Regions from separate parts of the Homo sapiens genome. Here region 1 is linked to region 2. Evidence: fine-mapped expression QTL. A gene starts in region 2. The other region holds a variant in brackets. All regions are shown on one strand. Distances are between the middles of the regions.

Region 1 (16,178 bases), 91 kb after region 2:
ATCCCACCACTTTTGCTATATTCTCTTTGTTATCAGCAAGTGACTAAGTCTAGCCCACACTAAAGAAAAGAGGATTACACAAGGGCATGAACACCAGGAGGTACAGACCTTTGGGGCCACATTAGCTGCTGCCTACACCTTCCTTGCATGCACAACAACACAGGAATAAACATCAAAATAGATAATAAATAGAGGGAAAATAGGGAAGCAGAAGGGAAAGGGAAAGTGTTCCAGCATCTAATTACTCATGCCTCAGAGCTCTCGCATTCTCTCTCCCCACCTCTAAATCTAGCCCAACAGCACACCCTCTGATCAGGTGCTCTCTTCACAGTCTCACACCTGTCTCCTCTTCTCTACCTGCATAGCACCACCAAAGTTCAGGCTTTCATCTCTTCACACCATGAATATTGCAGCACTACTTTTCTAACCAGGCTCCGTACTCCAATCTTTCTAACTCACACTTTTAACTTATCTTTATGGTACAGAAAGCCCTTCAGTAGCTCCCCATTGTCAAACAAAATCCAGACTCTTTAGGCTGCCGTTTGGTGCCTTCCATAATTTGATCCAGGCCTGGGTATCAAAATGCATCACCCCCAAGCCCCCAGTAACAATTCTCCATCCCAGGCAAACCATGCTCAACACCCAAACACACCATGTTTATACTCAGCTTGAAGCCTCTGCTAATACCATTATTCCCCCTCCCTCCGCAAGACCAGTCTTCACCTTACCATTACAAATCTTTGGCAATTTCCAAGATGCAGAGCAGAGCCCATCTTCTGTTACGCAGTTTCTGTTCACTCCTAACTAGATTTCGGTTCCTCTATGAACTGGCACAGCTGAGAGACCACCCCACCCACTGCACAGGCCAGTCCCTGTGTACCTGCCTGTTTTCCCAAGGAATCGGTAAGTTTCACAACTTCCTTCTTCCAGAGACCACCAGACTGCATCTCTGTGAGGGTGAGGATGGGTCTCACTCATCTTTCCCTCCTGACAGGAGGGCACAGCTGTTCCATGACAGGCAATATTGGTTGACTTAAGATGGACAGATGGAAGGAAGGAAGGAAGGAAGGAAATGTCAAGCCCAGGGTCTAGCATATAACAAGAGGTCAACAAGTAATACATATTTGTTAACACCACCAATTCTTACAATGGGAATTCTTCACCCAGCGACACCTTAGCTATGTAGGAGCCCTTCGAAAGAGAGCAAAGGCAAATGCAGTTTATCTGAGTCTGACACAAACAAGCCGACTCACACAAACATCACAACTAAAGGCAAATCCGCAGCTCCTCCTTCATCGCCCATCCTAACACTGGCTTAGCGATACAGGGTGCCAAGCTCAGGGAAATTATTAGATGGTTCAGCCAGGGCAGAACTCAGTCAGTACAAAGCAACTTCCAATCAGTGCGCTTCAGCTGTGACAACTTGGGAAACAGCAGTGGTGAGAGCTAAAAGGGTGCTGGCGAAAGAGAAAAAAAAATATGTCGCTTGTGGGGTGAGGGCGGTGTCCATATAGTTTAGATAATTCTAGTAAACAAAAGGATTTGTTAAAAAGAAGTAACAGAAGACTTTTTAAAGCCTTCTTTAAAGGGTGAAAATCTCAACTAAAGCACCCAACGTCCAAAATCCAGAGGAAATCTAGCGCTCCCTTTCTAGCTGGCTAGAGCAGTTAAGCCTGAAGTGAATTCTCCCAGGAATCAGATTCCTGGCCAAAGGTTGCCTGCGCAAACCCGGGCCACCCTCGTCTCACGGCAGGGAGCGCTGGAAACGGCTCAGGGGCTAGGCCCGTTAGCGTCGTCTTCCAAGAGCCGTAAATTCGCCCTCCCGCTCTGCTGACCCTGGAGCAAAGTCCATGCAGTGGTTCTCTGAGAGCCGGAGATACGCACCGCGCGGGGAACCCGGGGGTCCGGGGGCCCTAACTTTTGAGTTTTGCACGCCCCGCAGCCTGAGATGGGAAGGTAGCTCGTAGCGCTCCAAACTCACCTGCGTTTCAGAACGACATCTACCCACTGGTTTCAGCTCCTAGAGCAACAACTGCAGAATCTCCATGGTCCAAAGTCCTCCAGGAAAGAGAAGAAAGGGGTGACGGGGGTGAGGGCTGGGAGGCGAGGTCACCAGGGTCCCTTCCCTGGCTCGGGTGGGGGTGGGGGGCGCAACCCCTCACGGCTCCTCCCCACCAAGCCGTCGGGACCCCAGCGGGGGCGCCTCGCGTTGGGCGACAGGGACGCGGGGAGAGAGCGACAAGCTGGAAGCAAGGGCTGCCTGCAAAACTTTCGGTCCTCCAGCGGCAACTCTGCGGGAAAGACCACCCTTCCTTCGGCCCCGCGTCGGGCCTATCCCCGTGTGCCCCGACCCCTGCGCCCCAGGCTTGGGCGGCGCCGCTGCATCCCGGCTGCCGGGCGCGCTGCAGCCTTCGCTCTCCCGCACGCGGCGCTCGCCCGTCCGCGCTGCCCCTCCCCGGCAGGCGGGCGGCCCCGGCGGGCGGGCGGGCGCGGACTGCAGGTGCCTCTCTGCTGCCCCTGGCGGCCGCGGGCGCGCGAGCCCCACCGAGCCGGCTCCGGGAGCCCGAGCGCCCGCCCCTCCTCCGCTCCCTCTCCCCTCCTCCTCCGCCGCCCTCCTCCCATCCCGCCCTTCCTCCCTCCCTCCCCCTTTCAGAACACTCAATGTCGGAACGTTCCGAAGATGACGTCGGAGCGTTCTCGAATCCCGTGTCTCTCGGCTGCTGCTGCCGAAGGAACAGGGAAAAAGCAACAAGAAGGAAGAGCAATGGCGACACTGGATCGCAAAGTGCCCAGTCCGGAGGCGTTTCTGGGCAAACCCTGGTCCTCCTGGATCGACGCCGCCAAATTACACTGCTCCGACAGTAAGAACCCCACCACCTCCTCCTCCTTTTATTATCCTGTAACCTTTCCATTCACCTAGAGCCACTGGGAAAAAGTGTGTGTGTGAGAGAGAGAGTGGCCCCCGGTGTCCTCCATGCTTCTCCCTCTCTCTCTAAATAAATACACACAGAGACAGATCATCAATGCACAGGGAGAGGCCCGGCTGCCAGGGCTGTCTGTCTGTCTGTGCCCGGCTCCCCGTGGCAGCCCGCGGGGTGGGCTCGCAGCCCCACGGTGTTGTCCGTTTAAAAGGCTACTTTGTTGCTGCTTGCATAGTTTTTTGGGTACCTATCTGGGCCAGGTAGATGGAAACCCAGACTTGGGAGAAAATGTTGCATTGTCAATTTTTGAAAGAATTTCATATACAGTATTTATATCGATCTGTTTGCAAATAAACACTCTCCCTCCCCCCTTGACTTTGGCTTTTTTCCCCCCTTTTTTCCTTATTTTCTGTTTTCCTTTTCTTTTTCATCTGCAGATGTAGATTTAGAAGAGGCTGGAAAAGAGGGTGGAAAAAGCAGGGAGGTTATGAGGCTTAATAAAGAAGGTAAGTGGAGCTACTGGCATTTTAGTGTTAGCATGTGTGGCAGAATCTTCACAGGATTTCGAATATAATGTGAATTGTTCTGCTGGGTACAGAGTGACTAAGGCTTGTCAAAAATTGAGCACGCCCAGGTGACTACTGCTTCATGTTAACTTCTTTCAAAGTATAAATACAACTGGGGGGGGGGTAAAGGGGGGTGAGACTGTTGAAGGCAGAAGTTTACTGCACTTCAGTTGGACTCCACGTTTGAACCTTCTGATGCATATCTGCCATTCTCCTTGGGAGCATCATTGCCAAATGGTGGGGCGTTAAAATTTCTGAAATGAAGAGTGGAGTTCCCTTCACAAGCATCCCAGCCTTTCTCGTGGGTGAATGCACAACAGCTTAATGAACCCCACATGGTCAGTCATTCCAGCAGCTACTTCTCCACTCACCACTGAAAACCATTGTACATGGCAAACCTTTGCAGCAAGTTACATTTGGCCCACTTTGCATTTGGTCACAGATTGTTATGTGGCAAGCAGGGTTAGGAGCATCTGTATGTGCAGCCCCTCAGCAGTCATCATCTCTCTTTTCCCAGCATGGAAATACGGTACCTGAAATGGGACACACTGAGTAGATAGGTCATCCCAGACCAAGATATGCAAGAGAAGCCACAACCTGCTGCAATTGGGCATCAAACACATATGGTCGTCATAAATAAATCATATCCTGTTCTCATTTGCAAGCCTGCCGTATGTAACTCTGGCCTATGGGCTTCAAATGGAGCAACTCCGGGGGCCACTTGCTGCTAAGCAAATAGGTGGATTCATTTGAATTGTGATTCACTAACTGATGTCTTATAAACATAATTGGCTGAAATTGGGGGTGGGAAGATGGCACAAGGGGACAGAAGAGGTTGGTGGTATTGAAAGAGTTCAGACATAAGTAGGCCATAGGTGCATTGGTCATCCCAAATGAATGGAGAAAAGGCCATTAGATGCCAAAGAATGGTCCCCCTCATAAAAAGGGATGTCACCCTGGAAGGCAGCTGAAGCCTGCGTGGAAAGATGGAACTCATTTTATGAATCAACACTTCAGATGGTTGGTTTTCTGTGCCCAATCATTTCCTGACCATCCACTGAGAGGAAATTTTGTGCTTCAGAAAAAATAACATGAAGGTTAAAATGCGTACATATTCAAGGACAGTTCCCTAGCATAATGTTTCTGCTAATTAAGCACTTTGGGAACAAAACATTATTCTAAAGATGTTTGCTTCTAAATATCTTAGTGTGATCTTGACAGGTGTCTTCAGGATGCACGAGGGATTGATGTCAAGTGGACTTCTTACAAGTGGCAGCTTATTTGTGTTAAATGTTCATGTGTGTTGGCAGTGGGAAGCATCACTAGAGATTATTTTTCTTCACACACAAACTCTTGAGATCTCTAAGTGCTTGCAAGACCCAGTTATCAGGCTACTGGCAACGTGTCCATAAAAGATGATGAGGCTGTGGAAATCTTTAAATTAAAGTTGAGTAAAGGTCATGGTATAGCACAGGATTGTCACCTCTCAGGTCTGGGTGATGCGTTATGACTATCACACACAAAACTCACATCCTTTCCCCCCAGTCCCTGTTTCTATTTCAGAAGACTGTTGTTCTCAGATTCTCTTTGCCTCATGAGAAACAGATTTTTTTTTTTTTTTTTTTTTTGATACGGATTCTCACTCTGTCGCCAGGCTGGAGTACAGTGGTACGATCTTGGCTCACTGCAACCTCCGCCTCCCGGGTTCAAGCGATTCTCCTGCCTCAGCCTCCTGCATAGCTGGAACTACAGGCACGTGCCACCACACCCAGTTAATTTTTGTATTTTTAGTAGAGACGGGGTTTCACCATGTTGGCCAGGATGGTCTTGATCTCTTGACCTCGTGATCTGCCCACTTGGCCTCCCGAAGTGCTGGAATTACAGGCATGAGCCACCGTGCCTGGCTGAGAAACGGATTCTTTTAAGAAAAAATGAAAAGCTCTCCTTTCCTCAGAAGTCACAGGTGGTACATCCCGCTTATTAGGTCCTTTGTCCTATAAAGGTACGAAGATTTAGCTCCTAATTATACATATTTGCATTAAGGACACCCACTGTTCAGTGTAACTTGAAATTGCTAACTTCACCAAAATAGCCATATATGGGCTGAAATCTCTTTGTTCACAGGCCTGGTGGAACAGACTTGGGTGAGCAATTCCTGATGGTCTTTCTGGTATATATGCATGCAGTTTTCTTTATAGATAAAATATCTATATACTGAATACGTATTCCCCCATGGTGAGAAATTGAAGGGTTGAGCTGAGACAGGGTGTTTATTTGGTTACCTGGATCTCCAGTAATGCTTGCCATGGGCCCTCTTTTTGGAGTGATCAACAAAGTCCTGGGACGGATACATGTTTGTGGATGGGTCACTGCAGGACACAAAGTAGCCTGTGTGTGGCTGTGTACCTGTGCTTATGAATGTATGTAGATTGTCCATGACACTGTTGGCTTTAAGCAGGTCTTGAGAAGAAATTCGGCTTTAATGGGAATGAATGAACAAAATACAGTTTAGAAATTCCAACTGGGAATTGAAGGGAAGTGGTTCCGATTTTTGTTGTTGTTGTTGTTTTGTTTTGTTTTGTTTTGTTTTGTTTTTTTGAGACGGAGTCTTGCTCTGCCGCCCAGGCTGGAGTGCAGTGGCGCAATCTCAGCTCACTGCAAGCTCCGCCTCCCGGGTTCACACCCTTCTCCTGCCTCAACCTCCCAAGTAGCTGGGATTACAGGCGCCCGCCACCAAGCCCGGCTGATTTTTTGAATTTTTAGTAGAGATGGGGTTTCACCGTGTTAGCCAGGATGGTCTCGATCTCCTGACCTCGTGATCCACCCGCCTCGGCCTCCCAAAGTGCTGGGATTACAGGCATGAGCCACCGTGCCCGGCGGGTGGTTCCGATTTTGATGTTTTTTTTTTTTTGTGGTAAAATATACATAGCATAAAATTTATCATTTTAACCATTTTGAGTATACAATTCAGTGGCACTAAGTACTTTCATAATATTACACAACTATCATCACTTTCCATTTCCCAAATTTTCCATCATCCCAGTCAGAAACTCTGTACCCATTATGCAATCACTCCCCATTCCCCATTCCTCTCAGCCCTGGTAACCACTGTTCTACTTTCTGTCTCTATGAAGTTGCCTATTCTGATACCTCATATAAGTGGAGTCATACAATCTGTATCCTTTTGTATCTGGTTTATTTCACTTCGCATCTCTTCATAGCTCATCCATGTTGTAGCATGGATCAGTACTTCATTCCTTTTTAAGGCTGAATAATATTTCATTGTGTATATATACTACGTTTTGTTATCCACTTATCTGTTGGTGGACATTTGGGTTGTTTCCATATTTTGGCCATTTTGAGTAATGCCACTATGAACATTGGTGTCATATATTTTTAATAGACTAAACTCAGGAAGAGAAGTTAGGCTGGAAATGTGAAATAAGAATTATTTTGGTTTGGCCAGGCATGGTGGCTCACGCCTGTAATCCCAACACTTTGGGAGGCTGGGGTGGGTGGATCAGGAGGTCAGGAGATCGAGACCATCCTGGCTAACATGGTGAAACCCCATCTCTACTAAAAATACAAAAAATTAGCCGGGCGTGGTGGCACGCACCTGTAGTCCCAGCTACTTGGGAGGCTGAGGCAGGAGAATGGCGTGAACCCGGGAGGCGGAGCTTGCAGTGAGCCAAGATCGCACCACTGCACTCCAGCCTGGGCGAAAGAGCGAGACTCCAGCTCAAAAAAAAAAAAAAATTATTTTGGTTTCTACCTCTATCTGGCCACAACTTCAGAAGACACAGCAAGGACTTGCAGACTTTTTGAATAACTTGATTACTGTAATACAGTTCCCCATTCCTCACCCCTTTAAACTTTCTTTCAATTCTTTCCATTTCTTTCAGTTCTCCACCTAT[A/G]AAGTATGAAATGTTAACTGGATGCTTTGAAATGTCTGTAATAAAGTTTTCATGTCATTGTTATTATTTCATCTAAAATTAGCTAAATTATAGCTAAGAGGAATTTGCCAATTTTTTTTTTTTTTTTGAGACAGAATCTCGCTCTTGTTGCCCAGGCTGGAGTGCAATGGCATGATCTTGGCTCACTGCAACCTCCACCTCGTGGGTTCAAGCGATTCTCCTTTCTCAGCCTCCCAAGTAGCTGGGAGTCCAGGCATGCGCCACCACGCCCGGCTAATTTTGTATATTTAGTAGAGATGGGTTTCACCATGTTAGCCAGGCTGGTCTCGAACTCCAGACCTCAGGTGATCTGCCTGCCTCAGCATCCCAAAGTGCTGGGATTACAGGCATGAGCCACTGCACCTGGCCCCAAATACTTTTGAATGTTGTCATCACCTGGGTTCAGAAGGCGTTGCTAGATCCATGGGTGGATATGCTTAGATGGGCTTATATCCAGGACAACCTGGGTACTGGAAGGAGCAGGATAGCACTTTGAGTCAGCTTCCTACATTTTGATCTATGCCCTTTGGAAGTCGTTTCACTTCTCTTGGCCTATTTGCCCATATTTAAAGAAAGGGGGGTGGAACTGAATGTCCTCTAAGGTCCCTTTGAGACCTCTGAACCCAAGCTTCTCTATTGAATGTACCTTCCTTTGAGATGCAGTTATAGCAGGCAAACTGTTTCTAAAGAAACTTAAAAAAAAAAAAAAAAAAACCCAAGCCCTCACATTAAAAATATCTTAAACTACTTCAAAAATAACTGGGTTTATTTTCTCAATTTATAACTTCTTGGTGGCAAAAATCACTGCATCTCATACACAAGCAATATTCTGCTGCAAATCATTTGTGAATGGTATTTGGCCTTCAGCATTCCGAGAAAAGTGGGGTTCTGAGTCCAAAACCCAATGTGTTCCCCTAGTGAGGAATGATTTGACCCCAGTCAGCTTGGATCAGTCAGGCATTCAGATTTCCTGAGAGGAGGACTCCCAGAAACCTTATTAGCCTAATCTGTGAAAGGTGTTTATGAGAGAAAATTCCAAGGACGGCCATTCTTCTGTGCTAACCTTTTCAAATAATTTCCTCCTCAGCTTTTTCAAGCTAATTAGGGAAAAGCTCTCAGTGATTTAGAAAGATGTTCCCCTTGCCTCACCTGAATTTTTTTTTAAAGAATACCAATTCATAGATAAGGAATAGGGTTCCTGTGCCTCATAAGTGTCCCTAACTATAAGACAGAAAAGAATAAGGTTGTTGTGATGATTAAATGAGATAATACAAAAGGGCTTAGCACATAGTAAGTGCTTAATGAATGTTGGCTTTTACTATTATTATCATTATTAATGAAGCTAGCTCTAGAAAACTTTATTCTAATTAGGATTTTAAACTAATCTGTGATGAAAAGAAAAGATACGTAGCAGAAACTTTATTTTTAGAGTAAACCATTTTGTTGTAATTTTATGACACTAATGATTTTTTAAAGAAACAATTTCTATGGATATCAAATTTTTTTTTTTTTTTTTTGAAATGGAGTCTCCCTCTGTCACCCAGGCTGGAGTGCAGTGGTGCGATCTCAGCTCACTGCGACCTCCACCTCCCAGGTTGAAGTGATTCTCCTGCCTCAGGCTCCCGAGTAGCTGGGACTACAGGTACCCACCACCACACCTGGCTAATTTTTTTGTATTTTTAGTAGAGGCTGGGTTTCACCGTGTTAACCAGTATGGTCTCGATCTCCTAACTTTGTGATCCGCCCGCCTCGGCCTCCCAAAGTGCTGGGATTACAGGCATGAGCCACCGCACCCGGCCAGATATCAATGTTTTTAATAGAGTGCAGTTAAGTGATCATTGATAAGTTTTATCAATAGCTGTCGAATAATACTTAGGCTGTATATGGCCTATGGCTAAGAAGAGTTTATACAAAGTTCTTTCTAGGGACTGGGAGATCTAAAAAACTTTTTTCAATGATCGATAAGTTGTTTTATTTTATCACTGAGAAAAAAAAAAGTCCTGAATAGATTCCTGTTTGGGTCTCTTGGAAGCCTACACTTGTCACTTTGAAAACTTGCCTGTGTTTTAACGTTCCCACATGTTTTGATGTGATGTAGATAAACTGGTGGAAAGTTTCCAATTTGAAAATTGTGCTGGGGCCAGTAAGATATTGCTGTGACTATAAGAGTTTGCTGTTCTTCTGAGATGCTGGTGGAATTGGGCTGGAATATAGGAGGGTGCAGAGAACATAGGAGCATGTTCAGCTCAGGCTTAGGAGTCTTGCAGTTGTGGCTGGATGGGAGCAAATTGGAGAAGGTGGCAACTGACCTGGTTAAGAATGAAGTTTTCTTAGAATCCAAGCCAGAGAAGCCAGCAGCAGGCCATGGAGATTTATGGGAAACTGCGAACAGCTTCCCTTTATCATTATAGACAACTCTGTTATCTATGTTAATAGGAGATGGGAAGACACAAAGTCCACAGATTACACAGATAAACCTCATTTTTACCATTAATTTCAACTTCATTCCCCATTAAGCCTACCTTCCTCCCCTTTTGCTAACAAGCAGTAACATTTGTTCACTTTGGCGTTACATTATCATCTCTCTTATCTGGCCCAGCTTTTGGGATGGAAGGATGGGAGAGATGGAGCGGCTTAAAGGTGGTAGGGAGGAAAGATGAGACGGAGAAGGGAAGGGCTTGGAGACCTATAAGCTCTACAGGTGCAGCCCACTGATGGAGCAGGGGCATGCCACAACCAACACAACACAGATGAGAAAGGACATCCTGATCATCTAGTTTGGAAAATACAAAGCTTCCAAAATGAGTATTTCTTTATACATACAATTATTTCCTTGTGCCTGGGTTCCCGTGTGGAAGAAATGTGGCTCTGTCTACTTCCACAACAGGAAGCTAGAATGGACACACGGAAACACTGTATATGATAATTTGCCTTCTAAGTTGCCCTGTACCAGGGTCTCATCCTGTATCATTCTATGAGAATAATGTTTTTACTGCTAGAAGATGTAGACCATTACACACACATACACATTCATTTTAAAACTACTTATTTTTTTTAATAATGTTCATGTTACAAAATTCAAAAGGCTATCCAAGTGGAAAGTAAGTCTCCCTCCCACCCCATCCCCAGTTGCTTGTGTATTCTTCCAAAGATATTCTGTGTGCATTCAAGTAGATACATATATAATTTTGTCTTCTTGTTCTCACGTGAATGATAGAAACCTATAGTATTAGCTGATATCTTGCCATTTCCATTTATCTTAGAGAGCTGTCCATGTCAGTTCATGAGAAGTCGCCATGTTCTCTTTTGGTGCCTGCATAGTAGGGTAACAATTTAAGCCTCTGGGTGTCTTGCCAAGTTTTTAATACGCTCAACTGTTTCTCAGCCTCCCTTATGTGTTTGACCTGGAGGGAGCTCTCCTGACGTGCCAGAACTGGGCTAGACACCAGGGACACAGCAGTGAAAAACCACAACCCCTGCCTGCCCTCAGGGTGCTTCCAGCCTGGTGGCGAAAGTACAGGTAGACCGCGATGAGTGCTCTGATAGGGAAACTCAGGTGCTGCTGGAGGTCATGGTGGGGGGGCCTCACTGAGGTAGGGGCTCAGTGCCGGCCTCCCAGAGGAAATTTTATGTAAGCTAAAACCTGGAGGATACAGGAAGTTACCCATGTGTAGAGCTGGGCAGGACAGAGTTAGAGGAAACGACAGGGATAAAGGCCCAAGTGCCAGAGAATATAGACTGTTCTGAACCTAAAAAGTCCTCTTGCTGGAGTAAAGATAGCAAAGCACACAGTAGTATAATATTTCTCACCAGTGGCACCACTGATGGTTTGAGCCAGATGCTTCTTTTTGGGGGCGCTGTCCTGTGTATGGCAGGATGCTGAGCCGCATCTTGCGCCTCCACTTGCTAGATGCCAGCAGTGTCTCCCTCCCCTCCCCCAAGTTTAGACAACCAAAAATATCTCCGTACATTGCCAAATGTCCCAGGGGGACAAATCGCTCTGATAGAGAATCACTGGCTGGTGAGGCTGGAGAGGTAAGAACACAAGAAAAATAGACTAAGATACAGAAATATTCTGCCAATATCTGTCCATGTGTTAGGCCTTCAGCCCATGTAAGTCAGCCTTGTCGATTACTCAGCAGATATACCTGTACTGTGACTATCCCCTGGCGCTGAGCTACATTTGGGAGGATCTAAAGAGAGAGAAGCCTCGGTCCCCCAGGGAACCCTCCTCCCAAAGTTCCCAAGATGACTCTTCCAAACCTTGGAGTCCAGTCTGCAGTCACTGGTGACAATAGTGAGTTGCAGGTTCTAATTCTGGGTGGCCCAACCCTCCTTCACTGTGGGTGGAGGAGACCCAAAGCATCAATTCTGGTAATGATGGCATTTATTATACAGTGGCCCCCGATGTCAAAAGTACCACATCGCATTGGTGAAGCAGTAAGGATTTCAGTTTATATTTAAAGTCAGGCTGAAAATACAACTGGCGTTCTCTGCAGTTTGATTACCCACGGGATATGTCTGAAATGGGGATGCACATGACGGAAAGCAAAGTGGCTGCTTTCATGATTTCCATGTTAAGCCTGGGAAGGTACAAAGGGCAGGGGAGGGTCTGATTCCTGAGGCCTTCTGACCTGTGTGCCAGGTGGTCTGCAGCATCAGTTAAGACTGTGAGGCCATGTTGATGCTTTCAGCCGGCGGTTCCCAGGGGCCTGCCGTCTCTGCTGCAGAATTGATTTAGAAAAGTTAGGCAGATTTGTTTCTGTATGGTTTTCCGGGTTGGTTGCATTTATATCCTTCAGGTTAACGTTTCGTTTATGACATTTTGTTTCATTCATGACATATTTCAGAAGTAGGCATAAGATGGTAGTACTCAATGCAGTGAGACCTTGTCCTGGTCAAATCCCTCTTCTCTAAGGACCCCACACACTGAGGTGGCCCACTATTCACATCTGGAGACAGTGGTCACTGAGTGATTGCAATAATCAAACATAGCCGTAATGGAGAGGGAGAGCTTTAGCCAGTGGGTTCTACTTTTTCAGAATATTGTAGGAATGGCAAGGACTGACTTCTGTGTGTGACTGTCTCCTAAATCTCCCGGTCCAGTGTTCTGCTGATTACGTGCTCCCAGCTGATGCCGTTTGGCTGGCATTCTCTTACTCTCTCCTGTGGTAGAGCTCAGACTGCCAAATGGACCTGGATTTGGACCCTGAGGCGCTTGAACTAATGATGAAACCTCAGGAAATCCCTTCTTGCAAGTGGGCTGAGGCTACAGCGGAGCATCCTTAATATTCAGGGGCTAGACCTGGCTGCCCTAGTCGTCTATAAGTGAAGCTGGAATTCTGCTGTGGGGAAAGCAATGTTTTTATGGAGACACTTTATCCTTGTACCTGTGGTTTCTCAACACAATTCTGCTTGCCAATTTTAAGGGATCAAGTGCTTACAGAAGAAATGGAAACCAAATAAATACTCTCCAGGGCAGGACGAAGTGGCACCAGGTCACCATAATGGGGAAGATAAAAGTGAGTCGATGACAGGCTCTTTGAACACAGAAGCACTTACCGGTGTACCTGATTCTGTGATGCTAATTGTAAATCTGTGAACATTAATGGTGTAAGGATACCCTTAACTGTAGGGGGAGTGTGAGTTACGTGACCTTACCTCAAGGCATTGACAGGCCACAGAGTCCTGGGGTGGGGTGGGGACACAGGACACCCAGTCCGATGATATTAACCACAGGTGAGTTCAGCATTCCAGGGGTATGGAAGATGCTGGAGACATGGTCCCAGTTTGGTTATATCAGACCAAGGTGATAGTCCAGTTCTCAAAAAGTATATGAGTCACAAAAGGACAAATACTCTGTGATTCCATGTATAATGAAGTTCCTAGAGTAGTCAGATTCATACAGACAGCGAGTAGAATGGTGGGTATTCAGGGGCTGGGGGAGGGGAAACGGAGAGTTAGTGTTGCCATGATACAGAGTTTCAGTTGGGGAAGATGCAAAAGTTCTGGAGATGGACTGTGGTGATGGTTGTACAACATTGTGAATATACTTAATGTCACAGAACTAACCGTACACATAAAAAATGGTGAAAATGGCCCGGGTGCAGTGGCTCACGCCTGTAATCCCAGCACTTTGGGAGGCCAAGGTGGGCAGATCACGAGGTCAGGAGATCGATACCATCCTGGCTAACACGGTGAAACCCCATCTCTACTCAAAATACAAAAAATTAGCTGGGTATGGTGGCACGTGCCTGTAGTCCCAGCTGCTCAGGAGGCTGAGGCAGGAGAATCACTTGAACCCGGGAGGCGGAGGTTGCAGTGAGCTGAGATCGCGCCACTGCACCCCAGCCTGGGCAACACAGCGAGACTCTGTCTCAAAAAAAAAAAAAAAGTTAAAATGGTAAATTTTATGTTATGTGTATTTTACCACACACAAAAAGGTTCATTGGCATTGCAGGCTTGGGAGTTTAATGGAGCATTATTTAAATCTTGACCATTTATTGGCTGTGTATTAAATTAAGCCTCAATTTCTACTTTTCTTTTCCAGAGTAGGAATAATAGTACCTATCAGAATTGTTGTGGAAATAAATGAGATGCTATCTGGTATAAAGTAGGTACTCAGTAATGGAAGCCTTTGTTGTGATGATCGTTGTTTTTACCGGGCACTTGGGTCTTCGCCTTTGTCTTAAGAGCTGCCACTTCCAGGGGACAGACTGCGTTCTTACTGCTCCGGGGGATGCCCGGGGCTCACCAGGCATCTTTTGTCAACTTGTATGTCTCCAGTTCTTTAAGGATGCCCCGAATAAAGACAAAGGGATTGGACTGGTGTCCCTGTACTGTTAGTTTCAAGAGTGAATCTGGGGCTGGGCACTGTGGCTCATGCCTGTAATCCCAGCACTTTGGGAGGCCCAGGCGGGTGGATCATGAGGTCAGGAGTTCGAGACCAGCCTGGCCAATGTGGTGAAACCCCATCTCTACTAAAAAAAATACAAAAATTAGCCAGGTATGGTGGCATGTGCTTGTAGTCCTAGCTGCTTGGGAGGCTGAGGCAGAAGAATTGCTTGAATTCGGGAGGCGGAGGTTGCAGTGAGCCGAGATTGCACCACTGCACTCCAGCCTGGGGGACAGAGTGACACTCCGTCTCAAAAAAAAGAAAAAAAAAAAACGAATGAATCTGTTTCAATGTTTTGCAAAGTGTGTTCATTCTGGAGACCCTGCTGTGTTGTCCTGTAGGGTACTTCGTGCCCCCGGCCCCAGGCTGGTCATACTAAAACGAAACAACCGGGAGTGAAGCACAGGAACCAGGAATGTCCTTTTTTTTTTTTTTTTTTTTTTTTTTGAGACAGGGCCTCTCTCTGCCACCCAGGCTGGAGTGCAGTGGCATGATCAAGCTCACTGCAGCGTCGATCTCCAGGGCTCAAGCGATCCTTCTACCTCAGACTCCTAGGTAGCTAGGACTACAGGCGTGTGCTGCCATGCCTGCCTAATTTTTTTTGACTTTTAGTAGAGACAAGGTCTTGCTATATTCCCCAGGCTGGTCTCAAACTCCTGAGCCCAGGTGATCCTCCCACCTCGGCCTCTCAAAGTTCTGGGATTACAGGTGTGAGCCACCACACCTGACCAGGAACGTGCATTTTAAACAGGCTCCTCAGGTGGCTCTGTTGTTTCCTGAACTTTGAGAACTACTGTTTATTGGTTGAGAGAAGTGGTTCTCAACCCTGCCTACCTTGAAAATTCCTTGGGAAGCTTTTTAAAAGCAAATATGCCAGGACCACCCACAGAGATTCTGATTCTATAGATCCAGGTTCAGGGGTTCTAGGGAGCTGCTTATGTATTTCCTTTTGGAGTTTTTTGTTTGTGTTTTAAATTTATTTTTCTGGTACCTTTTGGGCTAAACACAGCCCAACTTATGTGTTTTTTTGTTTGTTTTGTTTTGTTTTTAAGTAACAATCCTAGCTGTCTTTTATTGGGCATTAACTAGGTGCCAGGCACAGGGCTAAATGTGCATGTTCGCATTTAATCCTCATGACCACCCTGTGAGGCAAATCCTGTTATCAACCCTATTTCAGAGATTGGGAAGCTGAGGCTCAGAGAGGTCAAGTGATTTACCCAAGGTAACATAGCTGGGGAATAGTAGAGCTGCCCTGAACCCCAAGGCAGGCTGATTCCAGAGACTGTGCTCTAAGCACTGTGTCCTGATGTCTGTCATCCTAGGAGCAGGGTTAGGACTAAGGGGAAGCAAGCAGGCACCCAGGACACCTGTTTAAGGAGGGGCTCACGTGGGCTTCTGCAAGTGCGGAGTGAGTGCCCCTTAAGTGTTGCACCTGGGCACCTGACTTCACTCATCCTCTCACCATCCTTGGCCAAGAGAGCTTGTTCTTTAAGCAAAATGGCAAGGCTGAACTACCTTTCATTCCCCCTTGACTGTGTAAGCCAGTGGCCTCCTGATAGGGCCCTGGGTCTCCCCATCAGGGAAACGCTCTCTCATTCCAAGGCCCCAGCTTTGGGGCCTCTGTGGCCAGAGTCCTGGCCTCAGGGAAATCACAGGAGCTAATGCAAACTGTGTTCCTTTTTGGGAGAAGGTGTTAGCAAAGATGGTTGCCAAGCAACTCCAGGGGCGTCTATCTAGAGTGATGATTTCTCTCTTTTTCCTCCTTTTGAACATCTTCTAGGCCGCTGTTCAGTTTCCCTCATGGCATTGGGATTGTTAGTAATTTCATGAAGGGTGTGCTCTC
Region 2 (16,178 bases):
ATCCAAAGGCACCCATCTGGTCAATGGCAGAGGGAAGATTAGAGGCCAGGTGCCAGCTCTCCCTAAAACACCGCATACTTTCCTTCCATGGCTGGTCTTCCAGGCTTTCTTTGGTGGTCTGAGTGCTAGAGAGCAAGAAGGAGGCTCTAATGGAATTTGACTTACACATGCATCTTAATTAAGAATCAAATTAGAATTGCTTGAAGCACGTACTTTGGAAAAGAAAGAGCATGCAAAAGATTTATTGTCAGCCATGGCGCCCACTGAAACATCTTGCTTGTGGCTAAGATCTGGATGCAGGATGTGCTCACTTGTCTCCCTTGAATCACTGCCTCTCCAGAAATGGACCAATGGGGCTTCCCTGGGAGCCTATGTTGGGATAATTAAGCCTTCCACAGTCTCAGAGAGGAGGAAGTTGGCCACCCTGGACCTTTGACACTGAAAGTGGAGATGCGGGTCAAGAATGTGGGGTGATGCCATCTTCTTCTTGGGGTGTAGCTGCTCTAACTTAGAGCTCTGCTTTCAATACACAGAGCAGGACTCCCTGAGACCATCACTCAATAGCTACCTCTTCATTCTCTCTAGTACCTAATCAAACAGCAGTGAACAAAATCAGTTCTGTGAAAAGAACGAGAGATTTGGAATCAGACCCCTGGCTTCAAGTCTTAGCTTTGCCACTGCTTGACTGTGTGACCTTAGGCTGGTCCCTTGACTTCTCTGGGGGTTCCTGTCAACTCTGTCTCTCAGGGCTATGGTGCTACATTAACAGTAGCCACTAAACAGGGTTCCTTTGCTAAAGAAGACTCATGGGACCCAAGTGACAATGCTTATAAATCTACAGTTTTATTACAGAAAACGGATACAGCATAGCAACAACATGAAAGTAAGGATATGCACTACAGCTGAAGGCTGCCTCAGCAGGAGATCCACAGAGGCCAGGTGCAGGCTAGGCTCTTACTGTTGTCTTTTCTCTATGGGACGGAAGAATGCACTGTCTTGGATCAGGAACAGCCAATGTATGCACAAATATCTTGGAATTATGGAGTCTTTACTGGGATTTTTTTCTATTTTGCTGTAGGCATATTCTTGTTCTATAACTGGCCTCAACGGCAGAACCCACAGAAGGTCCTCGTTGAGACCAGGTGCAAATAATCAATCCCACTGTTATCAATAAACAACGCTTACAAGCTGCTACAAACCATTCAGAAACTCCTAGGACCCACGGTTACAACGAAACACTTTTTTTTTTTTTTTTTTTTTTTGAGACGGAGTCTCGCTGTCGCCCAGGCTGGAGTGCAGTGGCGCAATCTCGGCTCACTGCAGGCTCCGCCCCCTGGGGTTCACGCCATTCTCCTGCCTCAGCCTCCCGAGTAGCTGGGACTACAGGCGCCCGCCACCTCGCCCGGCTAATTTTTTTTTGTATTTTTAGTAGAGACGGGGTTTCACCGTGTTAGCCAGGATGGTCTCGATCTCCTGACCTCGTGATCCGCCCGCCTCGGCCTCCCAAAGTGCTGGGATTACAGGCGTGAGCCACCACGCCCGGCCCACTTTTTTTATTTTTATTTTTATTTTGAGACGGAGTCTCGCTCTGTCCCCCGGGCTGGAGTGCAGTGGCGCGATCTCTGCTCACTGCAAGCTCCGCCTCCCGGGTACATGCCATTCTCCTGCCTCAGCCTCCCTAGTAGCTGGGACTACAGGTGCCCGCCACCACGCCTGGCTAACTTTTTGTATTTTTAGTAGAGACTGGGTTTCACCGTGTTAGCCAGGATGATCTCAATTTCCTGACCTCATGATCTGCCCGTCTCAGCCTCCCAAAGTGCTGGGATTACAGGCGTGAGCCACCGCACCTAGCCAAAGCAACACTATTAATCAGCATGCTTCATGCCTTGACTAGGGGTCAGTGTGGTTCACGAACTTCAGCAGAAAAATTCAGGCTAATATCAGGCCTATGGAAACTTATTCTCACAGCACAGATGCCACATAAGAAAATGCATATGCTCGGCCAGGCACAGTGGCTCAACCTGTAATCCCAGCACTCTGGGAGGCCGAACCAGGTGGATCACCTGAGGTCCGGAGTTTGAGACTAGCCTGGCCGACATGGTGAAACCCCACCTCTATTAAAAATACAAAAATTAGCAGTGTGTGGTGGCAGCTGCCTGTAATCCCAGCTACTTGGGAGGCTGAGGCAGGAGAATCACTTGAACTGGGAGGTGGAGGTTGTAGTGAGCCCAGATCACGCCACTGCACTCCAGCCTGGGCAACAAAGCAAGACTCCATCTCAAAAAAATAAAAAATAAAAAAAAGAAAGAAAGAAAGAAAAGAAAATGCATATGCTCAGTAAACTATAAAGCATTGTCAAATGTTGTTTCAACATATGCAACTTTTTCCTATTTCTTTAATTTCCACAATATATACCTCTTCCTGAATGAGATGTTCACCCACCCCCTTTTTTGGGAGGAACAAGGAACAATCCAGGCCAAGCAAGATTAACAGAAAAGAGCCCTTTATAGGACACAGAAGGAAAGGTGATTCAACTAGTGATTCTGTACATTATATTAGGTCGGTGTAAAAGTAATTGTGGTTTTTCCCTAGAAGAAAACCTAGGCAATACCATTCAGGACATAGGCATGGGCAAGGACTTCATGTCTAAAACACCAAAAGCAATGGCAACATAAGGCAAAATTGTCAAATCGGTTCTAATTAAACTAAAGAGCTTCTGCACAGCAAAAGAAACTACCATCAGAGTCAACAGGCAACCTACAGAATAGGAGAAAAATTTTGCAATCTACCCATCTGACAAAGGGCTAATATCCAGAATCTACAAAGAACTAAAACAAATTTACAAGAAAAAATCAAACAACTCCATCAAAAAGTGGGTGAAGGATATGAACAGACACTTCTCAAAAGAAGACATTTATGCAGCCAACAGACACATGAAAAAATGCTCATTATCACTGGCCATCAGAGAAATGCAAATCAAAACCACAATGAGATACCATCTTACACCAGTTAGAATGGTGATCATTAAAAAGTCAGGAAACAACAGGTGCTGGAGAGGATGCAGAGAAATAGGAACGCTTTTACGCTGTTGGTGGGACTGTAAACTAGTTCAACCATTGTGGAAGTCAGTGTGGCGATTCCTCAAGGATCTAGAACTAGAAATACCATTGGACCCAGCCATCCCATTACTGGGTTATACCCAAAGGATTATAAATCATGCTGCTATAAAGACACATACACATGTATGTTTATTGTGGCACTATTCACAATAGCAAAGACTTGGAACCAACCCAAATGTCCATCAATGATAGACTGGATTAAGAAAATGTGGCACATATACACCATGGAATACTATGCAGCCATAAAAAAGGATGAGTTCATGTCCTTTGCAGGGACATGGATGAAGCTGGAAACCATCATTCTTAGCAAACTATCGCAAGGACAAAAAAACCAAACACTGCACGTTCTCACTCATAAGTGGGAAGTGAACAATGAGAACACTTGGACACAGGAAGGGGAACATCACACACTGGGGCCTGTCATGGGGTGAGGGGAAGGAGGAGGGATAGCATTAGGAGATATACCTAATGTAAATGATGAGTTAATGAGTGCAGCACACCAACATGGCACATGTATACATATGTAACAAACCTGAACATTGTGCACCTGTACCCTAGGACTTAAAGTATAATAATAAAAAAAAAAAAGTAATTGTGGTTTTTACCATTACTTTCAATGGCAAAAACCAAGATTAATTTTGCACCAGCTAGGTCATAACTGGCAAGAAACAGACGTGTTTATCTTAGAGCATCACTATGGGGTGGGCCTGAGAAAGGCTTGTTTCTTTCAAATCTCTTCCAACTACATGGAGGCGAAAGTGGATGGATTCCAGTGACTGCCTGACTGCTTGCACTGGGGGTGAGGTTGCCATGGGCAAGGAAGAGCTGAGAGAAGGGACTGTCTTTTGTTCTTCTGAGGTGACTCTGAACAGGAAAGTGACATGACGGAAAAAGTAGAAACCTCTTGCAACACTCTTTGGGCCTGATACATAGGGTTAATTGGCTGACAGAAAGACTTTCTAGAAATGGATTGCATCTTCCAGCCTTTTCATATGATGAGAGCATTAAGAAGCATTTACATTTTAATTACCAAGGAGAATAAGAAACTCAGTCTTGGGCCTTTGTTTGATTTGCCAACACTGGCTAGCAGAGAACCACGCACAGATGATGGGCTGAAGAAAGCTGTGATTGCCTCTTGCCCAGAGCTTGCGGACAAACTCAGTTGGATGGGTTTGGTACCTTTTCATGTCCATGTGAATCTTCTGGCTCCCAAGGATCCCTTCTTTCATTAAATACCCTGGCATTTTTCATTTCCAGGAGGGTAATACAAAAGCTGGTTCCTTGGATGCTTCTTCAAAACATAGACAGCTTCCATGTGCAGTGGATTTAAAAATACCAAGGGTCCTTCTCTATGTCCTTCATCTTCTGGGACTCACATGTGATCCTTTGGGACTGATGGAGCCAGATGACTGCTTTGTCTCAACTCTTTCCACTGGGGCAGTTGAAAGTTTTGTCTAGTTTATATTCTTGTAGAGCCTCCCTTTGTAAGCTGTTGGTGGAATAGGCACTATAGCTTCACAAAGGGAAACTCATCTTCATAGGAGGTGGAAAGGACAGAAGTGAATTTAAATGTCAATATCAAGCAGGAAGAAGATCTAAAGCTCTACATTTGGGGTGTATCAGTAAATGTGGGGAAAAAACCATACCAGACTCAAAAAGTATAAAAATAAAAACAGCAAATATGTATTGGATATCCTCTATATATGTGGCACACAGGGACAATGAGCAATAAGATATATGAAATCTGTTATTGCAGGGCTGACATTCTAGTTGAGGAGGCAGAAATGGCCATATAACAGATGAATTACAGTATGATAGCTCATGCTACTTTTGGCTGAGCACTGAATCTGCATTAGGTGCTGGACTGAACTCTTTGCAGGCAGTCCATGTGCAGGCAAGAGGAGCTCCAGGGTGCAACAGCAGGAGCACTCCCCAGGAGCTAGGTCAATCCAGGAAGACTCCATGGGGGGGGGTGGGGCTTGAGTTGGGCCTTGAAGGAAGCATAGGAGTTAGAACACATGAAAGGAAAGAGGATACTCTATGTTACTTTATTTATTTACTTATTTTGAGATGGAGTCTCACTCTGTCGCCCAGGCTGGAGTGCAATGGCGCAATCTCAGCTCACTGCAACCTCCGCCTCCTGGGTTCAAGCGATTCTCCTGCCTCAGCCTCCTGAGTAGCTAGGATTATAGGCACCCGTCTTCATGCTCTGCTAATTTTTTACTGTATGTTACTTTATTTGAGATTATTATAGTGATGCCTGCTTCCAACAGCCTGAAGGGGTGCTGATGTGGCTGCCCCGCTAGAAGCCTCTGTAGCCCAGGTGTTGGAGTGTGAGGGTAATGACCAGGTTCTCAGACTCACAAAAGAAACAGTTTGTGTCACAGTAGCCCTTCCAAAAACAAGATTTGACCTAAGGGATTCTATTGTGTGTTTTAAATAAGAAATCTCAAGTATTTCTTGCAAACCTTTGTGATCTATCCCTTTCACACTTCTGATAAAATTCCAAATGATAGTGTTCAGTATAAGAAATTGGGTTCTTCCTAACCTCACTCTTTCCCCAGTGACAATAAAAGTCACCTCGACTCAAATGATTGTGGCCCTAAAAGCCCATATTTCTGGGGGAAATCTGAAATGTTTACTTCAAGTGACAGTCTGAACTGCTCATGGCCCACTTCACATTCACAGGTCATCCTGCCCTCTGCTGAGTTGAAAAGCCCAAGATAGAAGAGGGCTCAATATTAGGAAACCCAGTTATTTATTTATCTTATTAGCAGATCGAAGAGGAAAATTAAATGGTCATTTTCATAGATCTTGAAAAAGCGTTTGATTTAAAAATCCATTTTTATTTAGAAATAAGTACTTGAATATTCTTACATTTAGTTTTATTATATTTTTATTTAGAAATAAATACTGTAATATTCTTATATTAATAAGAATAAAAGCCACCTCCTTAACATATAAAACATTTCTCTCTCACACCAAAAGTTAACATCATGCTTAATGGGAAACAAGACAGGAATTTACACTCTTGTCATTATTTAATAATGGTCAGAATGTCCAGGCCTGGCAGTTAGATAAGAAAAAAATAGGAGCTATAGACATAGGAGAAGAAGAATATAAATGTTCATTTTTTCAAACGTGGAAAATTCATGAGAATCACCTGAAAAACCATGCCAAATAATAAGATAATTTGTTAACAGATTTCCATACATCATACAATAATCAGTTGAAAGATGTAGGGAAGAAGAGATTCCATTTACAAATGTAAAAAAAGAAAAAGTAAAAGAACTAGAAATAACCATAATAAGAATGTACCAAATCTATATGAAGGAAACCTCAAAATACTCCTAAGAAAAACAAATGAAGACTCAAACAAGTATCTAGAACCCTGTTCTTGGATTAGGAAGACTCAAGATCATAAATAATACTCACTAACATTTACTAAGCATTTACTATGTACTCAGACACTCTTCTAAGTATTTTACTACATAACTTGTCAAAGATGTAAATTATCCCTAAATTAATTTGCAAATTTAACATAAATTCAATATATTATGCATATACTACCTATTCAGAAATAAAATTTAATTTTAAAATCTCAATTTCAATAATCCAAGCTGACATTAAAAAGATCATCTAAGATTCTTGATGCCCTTGAATGAGGAAGAGAGAGTAAAATGATCACTAGCTTGAGTCTTTGACCCTTCTATCAGAAGGTGTTTTCTTTGCTCAAGAGGAAGACACCCCCTCAGTAACTCACTTTCCTCAAAGGATCACTTGTCAACCTCAAGTTGCCCTACGAGCCTCCAGAAAAGGGCCAGAATCTCCACAAAGACTCACTTGACATACTCACAAAGCTCTGCTATGAACACTATTTTCCCAACCTTAAATCTCAGGAGGACTACCAAATGCAGGCCAGTTAACCCAAGAGGGAAAGTGAAGTCTACACCAACATAGATTAGATTAGGCTCTTTAAGCATCTCTCTTTTCCAGGGCTCCTACCTGGTCCCCCAGGGCTCCCTGGAGCGGCATCACCTCATTCATTACTGCAGCTAAGCCCTCAATTGAACAAGCCTCCCAGGGGCAATTTCCTTTCTGGGGGACATTGTCATTCAATGGTATTATGCAGACCAAGTAGGCAAGCAAGGTTCCAAAGCAAAATTGAGTTCCTACCTGACATGGCACCCAGGAGAGCCAGGAGAATGATTGCTTCCTGCATACTTGATGGTCACAACTGTGCGTGCTTCCAGCACATTAGCCACAGCCTGAATCCCGTCTCACACCCAAAGTTTATTCCAGAAGCCACTCAGCTTCCCCTCCTGGTTTTGTTGCCATGCAAGAAATCAAACAGAGGCTTTGGCGGTAGCCAAGGGAGACTCCAAACACCACAGGACTGTTTGTTCTTTGATTACCTGCTTCTGTGACTGCATAGCACCCAAGAGACCAACCAGCCAGTCCTGGTCAGCTCAGAGTTTACCTTAAAAGTCCACACTCACCAAGTGTCTCAACCAAGAGCTCCAAAAGAGAAGTCAAAAGAGAAAACCGAGACACGGAGACCACACTAAGAGCTGGACGTGCGTAGTCCACCCATGATGGTCTCGGTCGCCCTGTAGCCAGGCTTGTGGTCATTTCCAGAAACAGGGGTGGGAAGTGGGAGTTTTTCTGCTGTCCTGAATCAATGAGTAGGATTCAGACTTGGGAATTAACTGGCACTCGTTCTAAAGACAAGATCTGAGAGCTGGGAGCAGACCCCTCCTCGAGGCTGACTTGAGGTGGAAGACTGCCCTCTGACTCCACCCCCCACCACCGCCCCTCCAGCCCTCGAAGAAGGCTGTGAAGGAAGGTTACTGGAGTGGTGAGGCTTCTGCCCACTGGGGAGTGATGCAGGTCTTGCCCTTCACGATGCCTTTCTGTTCCACACAGCCCTGTGCCAGGGCACAAGATGTGGCATGTGAACAAACGCGGGCTGGGGTCTAGTCTCCACTGAGAAGGAGCAACAGCAGAGCAGAGAGAGAACGGCCGAGCAGTGGCCTGTCCCCTTGACATGGTGCAGTAAGAGAAGTAGTGGGCACAGTGGAAGGCAGCTGGGCTTGGACCACCTCTCCCATTCCTCTGCCAGCTAGGGGAGGAGAGGCCAGCAGCCCAAGGCTGGGGGCAGGAATGCAGTGAAGAAGGTGGGGAGTTGAGTCAGAGCCTCCCAGTCTGGACGAGACCCCACAGGCGCTCTGAAAACTACACATGCCCCACAGGTGAACCAGCTTTTAGCACCTGCTACACGGAGGTCACCAACGAGGGATAGAGGGAGACAGTGTTATGGAACCAAACTGGGTCCACTCACCCTGTGCAGTAAAACCGGATATCCACACCGAGGTTTTTGCAGCAATAGAAAGGAAGGCATTTATTTGCAAGGGTGCCAAGCAAGAAGGGCTCAGAGAGTGAGGGGTTTGACCCAGGCTGCGCCACCTGCCAGTGTCCCCTGTGTCCCCTGCGTCCCAAACCTAGGGTGGCAAGGCTGCCCTTCCCTTCCACCACATCCAAACATTTGACAAGCCCTTTCCAGCCTCCAGGGCCTGCTGCCGGGCCCCTTCCCATGCTTGTTGCTACTGCCCTGGCTTAAGGTCCTTGCCTCTGGCCTGGGCTCTGGCCCGCAGCACATCCTACAGAAACTTAGGTTAATTTCCCCAAAGTACAATTTTGGTCATTTACTTTCCTGCTCAAAATAACAAGAACCTTTCCCTTAAGAAAAGTTGACTTTTCTTGTGTAAAGCATGAAGGAAAGGTAGTAAGATTAGGAAAGCTAGTCGATAGGTCTCTGTTCGAAGCACATAGATAGTAACAACAACAACAAAACAAAAGGGAGTGTTGCTGTGTCACCTTTGGCAATTTACCTAACCTTTCAGAATCTCAGTTCCACTCACTTCTGTAAATCAGGGAAAATAATACCTGCTACACAGTATCATCGCAAGCGATACACAAGAGAAAGAAGTGAAAGAAACTGGCCCATACTATGTGTTTTAAAAATACTTTTTTTTTTTTTTTTTTTTTTTTTGGAGACAGGATCTCACTGTCACTCTGTCTCCCAGGCTAGAGTGTAGCAGCGCGATCATAGCTCATTACAGCCTCAATCTCCTGGACTCAAGCAATCCGCCCACCTCAGCCTCTGGAGCAGCTGGGACCACAGGCGTGCACCACCACACCAGGCTAATTAAAAAAATTTTTTTTTTAGAGAGGACGTCTCCCTATGTTGCCCAAACTGGTCTCAAACTTCTGGGCTCAAGCGATTCTCCCACCTCCGCCTCCCGAAGTGTTGATATTACAGGCATGTGCCACACTATTTTTTCCTAATAGGACCCTGGCAAGGGCTGAAACATAGTAGGTACTCAATATATATTGGCCAAATAAAAAGAAAAATAAACAACAGTTGCCAAGCTACCAATTCTCACCTCTCAGTTTTTCCTGTCATGTGAGATACTGTAAATAATCCATTTCATTATGCATAATTCAAGCTGAAGCGATGGCTCAGATTAAGTTATGGAAAACGTCAGAATGATTAAACTTTTGTATTAAAGAAACTCACATCTGTTTAGTTTTCAGCCTGACTGCACAGCATTTTTCATGTTACCCTGTTTTTACCAGGAGATCGTGCCTCCCCTTCCTTTCCCTCCCTGGTTCTAGGGAGCAAAAGGGTCATCTTTTGGAATTCATTGTGGGTGTTTTCTCCTGTAATTACAGCTTCTGTTTCCAGCCCCGAGGTTGTTTCTGCCATTGCCGCGGGCTGCTGCCCATGTGTCAATTCCCATCTCCCTCCGAAAGCACCTAGTCCTAGCACCAGACACCCAACTGGGCCTGAATCGCACCAAGGCTGAATGGGACCTTGCGGTCCTTGGCTCTCCTGTCCCTGACTGCCAGCATGCTGAGCTGTCCTGGATCCACCAAGGTCTCAGCCAGATGGGATGAATGGGTTCCTCAGGCAGGGTCGGAATCTCTAGGGCAGGCACCCCTCCAGCTTCACATGAGACCCAGGAGCCTTCTCCTACATGCTGTCTGGCTCAGCAGTGATTCAGGCCCTTAAAGTATTTCAGGGGACTTCCCTGGGAACTAGCTACTGTAAGTGTCTAATTTGCTAGCAAAGGAGTTGTGTTCCAAACATTTTTTGACTTGGAACTTGGAACTCAATTACCCTTACATAATCTATAACATATAGTCATGCACCGCATAATGACAACATTTCCATCAACCATGGACTTCGTACACAATGGTGGTCCCATAGATGATAATGGAGCTGAAACATTACTATCAACTAGTGACGTTGTAGCTGTTGTAACATCATAGTGCAACATGTTACTCATGTGTCTGGGGAGATACTGGTGGAACAAACCTACTGCACTGATAGTTATGCAAAAGTCTAGCGCATACGGTTATGTACAGTACATAATACTTATAATGATAATAAATGTATGCTGTCATTTTAGAGTATACTCCTACTTATTTAAAAAAATAAAGCTGGACAGGCACCGTGGCTCACGCCTGTAATCCCAGCACTTTGGGAGGCTGAGGCGGGTGGATCACAAGATCAGGAGTTCAAGACCCACCTGGCCAACATGGTGAAACCCCGTCTCTACTAAAAATATAAGTTAGCTGGGCATGGTGGTGAGCACCTGTAGTCCCAGCTACTTGGGAGGCTGAGGCAGGAGAATCTCTTGAACTAGGGAGGCAGAGGTTGTAGTGAGCCGAGATCGCGCCATTGCACTCTAGCCTTGGTGACAGAGTGAGACTCCATCTCAAAAAAAAAAAAAAAAAAAAAAAAAAAAGCTAATTGTAGAACAGCCTCTGGCAGGCCCTTAGGAGGTATCCAGAGGAAGGCATTGTTATCATAGAAGATGGCAGCTCCATGTGTGTTATTGCCCCTGAAGACCTTCCAGTGGGACAAGATGTGGAGGTGGAAGACATGACATTGATGATCCTGACCCTGTGCAGGTCTAGACTAATGTGTGTGTTTGTGTCTTCATTTTTAACAAAAAAGGTTTGCAAGTTAAAAAAAAATAGAAAAATAGTATAGATTAAGGCTATAAAGAAAGAAAATATTTTTGTACAGCTGTGCAATGTATTTTAAGCTGTTATTACAACAGAGTCAAAAGTTTTAAAAATATAAAAGTTTGTAAAAATGTTACAGTAAGATAAGGTTAATTTATTATTGAAGAAAGAAAAATTGAAAAATAAATGGAGTGGACTAAGTTTACAAACTCTACAGTAGTGTACAGTAATGTCCTAGGCCTTACATTCACTCACCACTCACTCACTCACCTACAGCAACTTCCAGTCCTGCAAGCTCCATTCATGTTAAGTGTCCTATAGAGGTGTACCATTTTAAAAAATCATTTATGCAGTTTTTTGTTGTTGTTTTTTTTTTTTGACGGAGTCTCGCACTGTCACCTGGACTGGAGTGCAATGGCACGATCTCAGCTCACTGCAACCTCCGCCTCCTGGGTTCAAGCTATTCTCCTGCCTCAGCCTCCCAAGTAGCTGGGATTACAGGCACCCGCCACCATGTCCAGCTAGTTTTTTGTATTTTTAGTAGAGAGGGGATTTCACTATGTTGGCCAGGCTGGTCTCAAACTCCTGACCTCGTGATCCACCCACCTCGGCCTCCCAAAGTGCTGGGATTACAGACGTGAGCCATCGTGCCCGGCCTTATGCAGTATTTTTTAATGTACTTTTTCTATGTTTACATATACAAATACATACCATCGAGTTACAATTGCCTACAGTATTCAGTACAGTAACATGCTGTACAGGTTTGTAGCCCAGGAGCAATAAACTATACCATACAGCCCAGGTGTGTAATAGGCTATACCATCGAGGTTTGTGTAAGTGCACTCTATGATGTTCGCACAATGATGAAATTGCCTAGTATTGCATTTCTCAGAATGTATCCCCATCATTAACTAACTGTACTTGTCTGTATTTTAAATATTACAGCCTTAAGATGAGACACAGAAGTACTGTGCAATGGCTGGGCTCTGTTAGCAGCTCCACGAGCATTGGTGGGCTGGCCTGCAAGCCTCATCACCTTTATATCTGCGGGGCAGTTCTGTTCATGGTCCGTTTGTTCAGGACTGGAACTATGGGCTTCCAGGAATCCAAAACCTAGAACAGAACACCCAGGTTCCATCATTCAAGCACCTCCCCCATCTCAGGCCTCCCTCAGGAAAGGCACTCAGGGTAGACCCATGCTCACAGCAATGGTGCCATGCAGATGCACAAAGCTGCTTGCAAGAATAGAAACACATCCCTCCCCGTGTCTTCTTTGTGGGCCACTGTCCTAGCACACGCACTGCTTTAGCACCACATCTCATGGATCTTTTATACATCTGTCTCCATGCAGCCTTGGCAAGTTTTCCAGGACAGAGAAGCTCTTATGCTTCTTTGCACTCCAATTGCTTCACATTTAACACTGTGCCAGATGCATAGTAAGTGCTCAAAAAACATGGAATTACTGATCTTACTTTATACTTCCTTGCCTCGTGCCATGCTCTCCTCTCACACCCACCCCAAACATCGACCCAGTGAGAGCCCCCCCCGCCCCCGCCAGCTCTTGCAGGGATAGAAATAAAGAAGTGCCACAGCCCTTCTCACTTCTAGAACCCCGGAGCTGCATCCCCTGACTGGCCTTGAGGACCATGGGAGGGGCTCCTCTGAAGCCAAGGCTCTCAGGACCCACTGGTAGGGTCCTTTTCCTGGCTTCACAGGTGGAAGAGTGACTGAGAAGACGTCCTTGGGGCTCAGCCCCACCTGACTCCAGGGCACCTGCTGTGACTGTGGGCTAGGCTGCCTGCTCTCTGGGCTCACGTCCCCAGATAATTCTTTTTTTTTTCTTTAAACAGTTTGTGATATAATTCACATACCTTACAATGCACCCAGTTAAAGTGTACAATTCAGTGATTTTTAGTATATTCATAGAGTTGTGCAACCATCACCATAATCAATTTTATAACATTTTCATCCCCCCCAAAGAAAAACCTCTTCAATCCTTAGCAGTTACTCTCAATTTTCCTCTAACTCTCGCCCCCAACCCTAGCAACCACTAATCTACTTTCTATCTCTATAGATTTCCTTATTCTGGGCATTTCATATGAATAGAATCATACAATATGTGGCCTTTTTAAAATTTTTTTTTTTTTTTTGAGATGGAGTCTCACTCCATCACCCAGGCTGGAGTGCAGTGGCGTGATCTCAGCTCATTGCAACCTCTGCCTCCCAGGTTCAAGTGATTTTCCTGCCTCAGCCTACCAAATAGGTGGGATTACAGGCGCGTGCGACCATGCCAGGCTAATTTTTGTATTATCAGTAGAGGCAGGGTTTTGCCATGTTGGCCAGGCTGGTCTCGAACTCCTGACCTCAGGTGATCCGCCTGCCTTGGCCTCCCAAAGTGCTGGGATTAGAGGCAGGAGCCAGTGCACCCAGCAATATGTGGCCTTTTGTACTGGCTTCTTTTACTTGCATAATGTTCTTTGGGTTCGTGTATTTTGTTGTATGGCTCAATACTTCATTCCTTTTTATTGCTGAATAATATTGGGTTGGTGCAAAAGTCATTGCGGTTTTTGCCATTACTTTTAATTACTTTTGCACCAACCCAATATTATTCCGTTGTATGGATAGACCACAATTTAATTTTCTTATTAATCAGTTGATGGACATGTGGGTTATTTCAACATTTTGGCTATTAAAATAATGCTGCTATGAACATTTGTGTACAAGTTTTTGCACGACATAGGTTTTTATTTCTCTTAGGGAAATACCTAGAAGTGTAATTACCAGGTCATATGGTGATTCTACCAGGTCATTCTTGTGGGCAATTGTCTAACTGCTTTGAAGCCAGCTCCTTCTCCAGCATCCTTCATTGGCTTCCTGGAGCCCCCTACCCCAAGCTATGGGTCTCCTCCTACTTACCCTCTCTGCCACTTTGTTCAAACATCTTCATGCCAGCTGATTCCTTCTTCCCCCTTCTCCCTTTAGGTGGCATTTATTTATTCACTCAAGAAATATTGAATACCTACTGTGTGTCAAGCCCTGTTGTGCATGCTAAGGTTATCGCAGAGAACTGTTTTGTTCTCTGAAGAAAATGCCTGGCCACAAGCAACAGATTCTGTAGAAGCACCCCTCCTTCCATCCATCCAGTCAGCCAGCTGTGGCTCTGGTTGAAGCTCACCGCATGGCAGCACTGAGAGGTGACAGCATGCTGGCATCCCTCGCTCGCTCGCTCTCGGCGCCTCCTCTGCCTGGACGCCCACTCTGGCGGCACTTGAGGAGCGCTTCAGCCTGCCGCTGCACTGTGGGAGCCCCTTCCTGGGCTGGCTGAGGCCAGAGCCGGCTCCCTCAGCTTGAGGGGAAGTGTGGAGGGAGAGACGCCGGCGGGAACCGGGACGGCGCGTGGCGCTTGCGGGCCAGCGCTAGTTCCAGGTGGGTGTGGGCTCGGCGGGCCCCGCACTCGGAGCAGTCCGCCGGCTCCGGGCAGTGAGCGGCTTAGCACCTGGGCCAGCGGCTGCTGTGCTCGACTTCTCGCCGGGCCTTAGCTGCCTCCCTGCGGGGCAGGGCTCAGGACCTGCAGCCTGCCATGCCTGAGCCTACCCCGCCGCCGTGGGCTCCTGCGCAGCCTGAGCCTCCCCGACCAGCGCCACCCCCTGCTCCACGGCGCCCAGTCCCATCGACCACCCAACGGCTGAAGCGTGCGGGCGCACAGCGCGGGACTGGCAGGCAGCTCCACCTGCGGCCGGGTGCTGGATCCACTGGGTGAAGCCAGCTGGACTCCTGAGTCTGGTGGGGACTTGGAGAATCTTTATGTCTAGCTAGGGGATTGTAAATACACCAGTCAGCACCCTGTGTCTAGCTCAGGGTTTGTGAATACACCAATCGACACTGTATCTAGTTACTCTGGTGGGGACTTGGAGAACCTTTGTGTGGACACTCTGTATCTAGCTAATCTAGTGGGGACGTGGAGAACTTTTGTGTGTAGCTCAGGGATTGTAAATGCACCAATCAGCACCCTGTCAAAACGGACCAATCAGCTCTCTGTAAAATGGACCAATCAGCTCTCTGTAAAATAGACCAATCAGCAGGATGTGGGGGGGTGGGCGGGGACAGATAAGAGAATAAAAGCAGGCTGCTGGAGCCAGCAGTGGTAACTCGCTTGGGTCGCCTTCCACGTTGTGGATGGTTTGTTCTTTTGCTTTTTGCAATTAGTCTTGCTTCTGCTCACTTTTTTGGTCCTTGCTACCTTTATGAGCTGTAACACTCACCGTGAAGGTCTGCAGCTTCGCTCCTGAGCCAGCGAGACCACGAACCCACCAGAAGAAAGAAACTCCGAACACATCTGAACATCTGGAGGAACAAACTGTGGGCACACCGCCTTTAAGAACTGTAACACTCACCACGAGGGTCCACGGTTTCATTCTTGAAGTCAGTGAGACCAAGAACCCACCAATTCTGGACACACCACTGTACTTGCATCAGGATGGAAGGTCTGCTATGACATGGTTCTCCCATCAAGGAACTCGGGCCCTAGCCCAGAGACAAACCAGTAAGCCCAGGATTATAACCAAGTAATCTAGGCATGCCTCCACTGAACTCCAGGCATGCCTGAGGCTGTGGGGTATGAGAGAGTGGAGAGAAAGAATCAAATGTAGGTCAAGAGTGAAGCTGTCAGGGAAGGTTTCTAAGGGCAGGAGTGAGCTGAAGAAATGAAGGGTAAAGGCAAAAGCAGTTAACAATGTAGAGGTATGAAATAGTATAGTTCATCCAATGGCATTATGCCAGCTGATTTATCTTTAGGGAAGCTCAGTTTTTAAGAAAAAAAAATTTATTTTTTGAATAGGTAATACATGTACACAATGCAAAATTCTAAATATTCAAAAGAGTAAACAATGAAAAACATGTCTTCCTATCTCCTTTCCCCAGAAGCTGTTTCCCTCCTCGGAGACAGCCATTATTGTTACAGCCTTGTGATCCTTCTAGAAACAGTCTATGTGCATACAAACATATACTAAATAGCATAGTCTC

Evidence for each region. PIP is the estimated chance that this variant, and not a neighbour inherited with it, causes the effect.
Region 1: its variant is fine-mapped to the expression of CDHR3 in whole blood (TOPMed, PIP 0.93).

Annotation. Positions count from the first base shown.
Region 1 is chr7:105,863,061-105,879,238 of GRCh38, reverse strand. It overlaps ATXN7L1 (ataxin 7 like 1), which reads left to right and starts at 2,640. Exons shown (of 12, transcript NM_020725.2): 1 at 2,640-2,861; 2 at 3,359-3,427. The coding sequence starts at 2,681. RefSeq lists a silencer at 2,388-2,597. The variant A/G (reference allele first, on the strand shown) is at 7,402.
Region 2 is chr7:105,954,482-105,970,659 of GRCh38, reverse strand. It overlaps CDHR3 (cadherin related family member 3), which reads right to left and starts at 7,396. Exons shown (of 19, transcript NM_152750.5): 1 at 7,296-7,396. The coding sequence starts at 7,341. RefSeq lists a silencer at 7,063-7,357 and enhancers at 6,940-7,891, 7,892-8,843, 13,944-14,443, 14,444-14,945.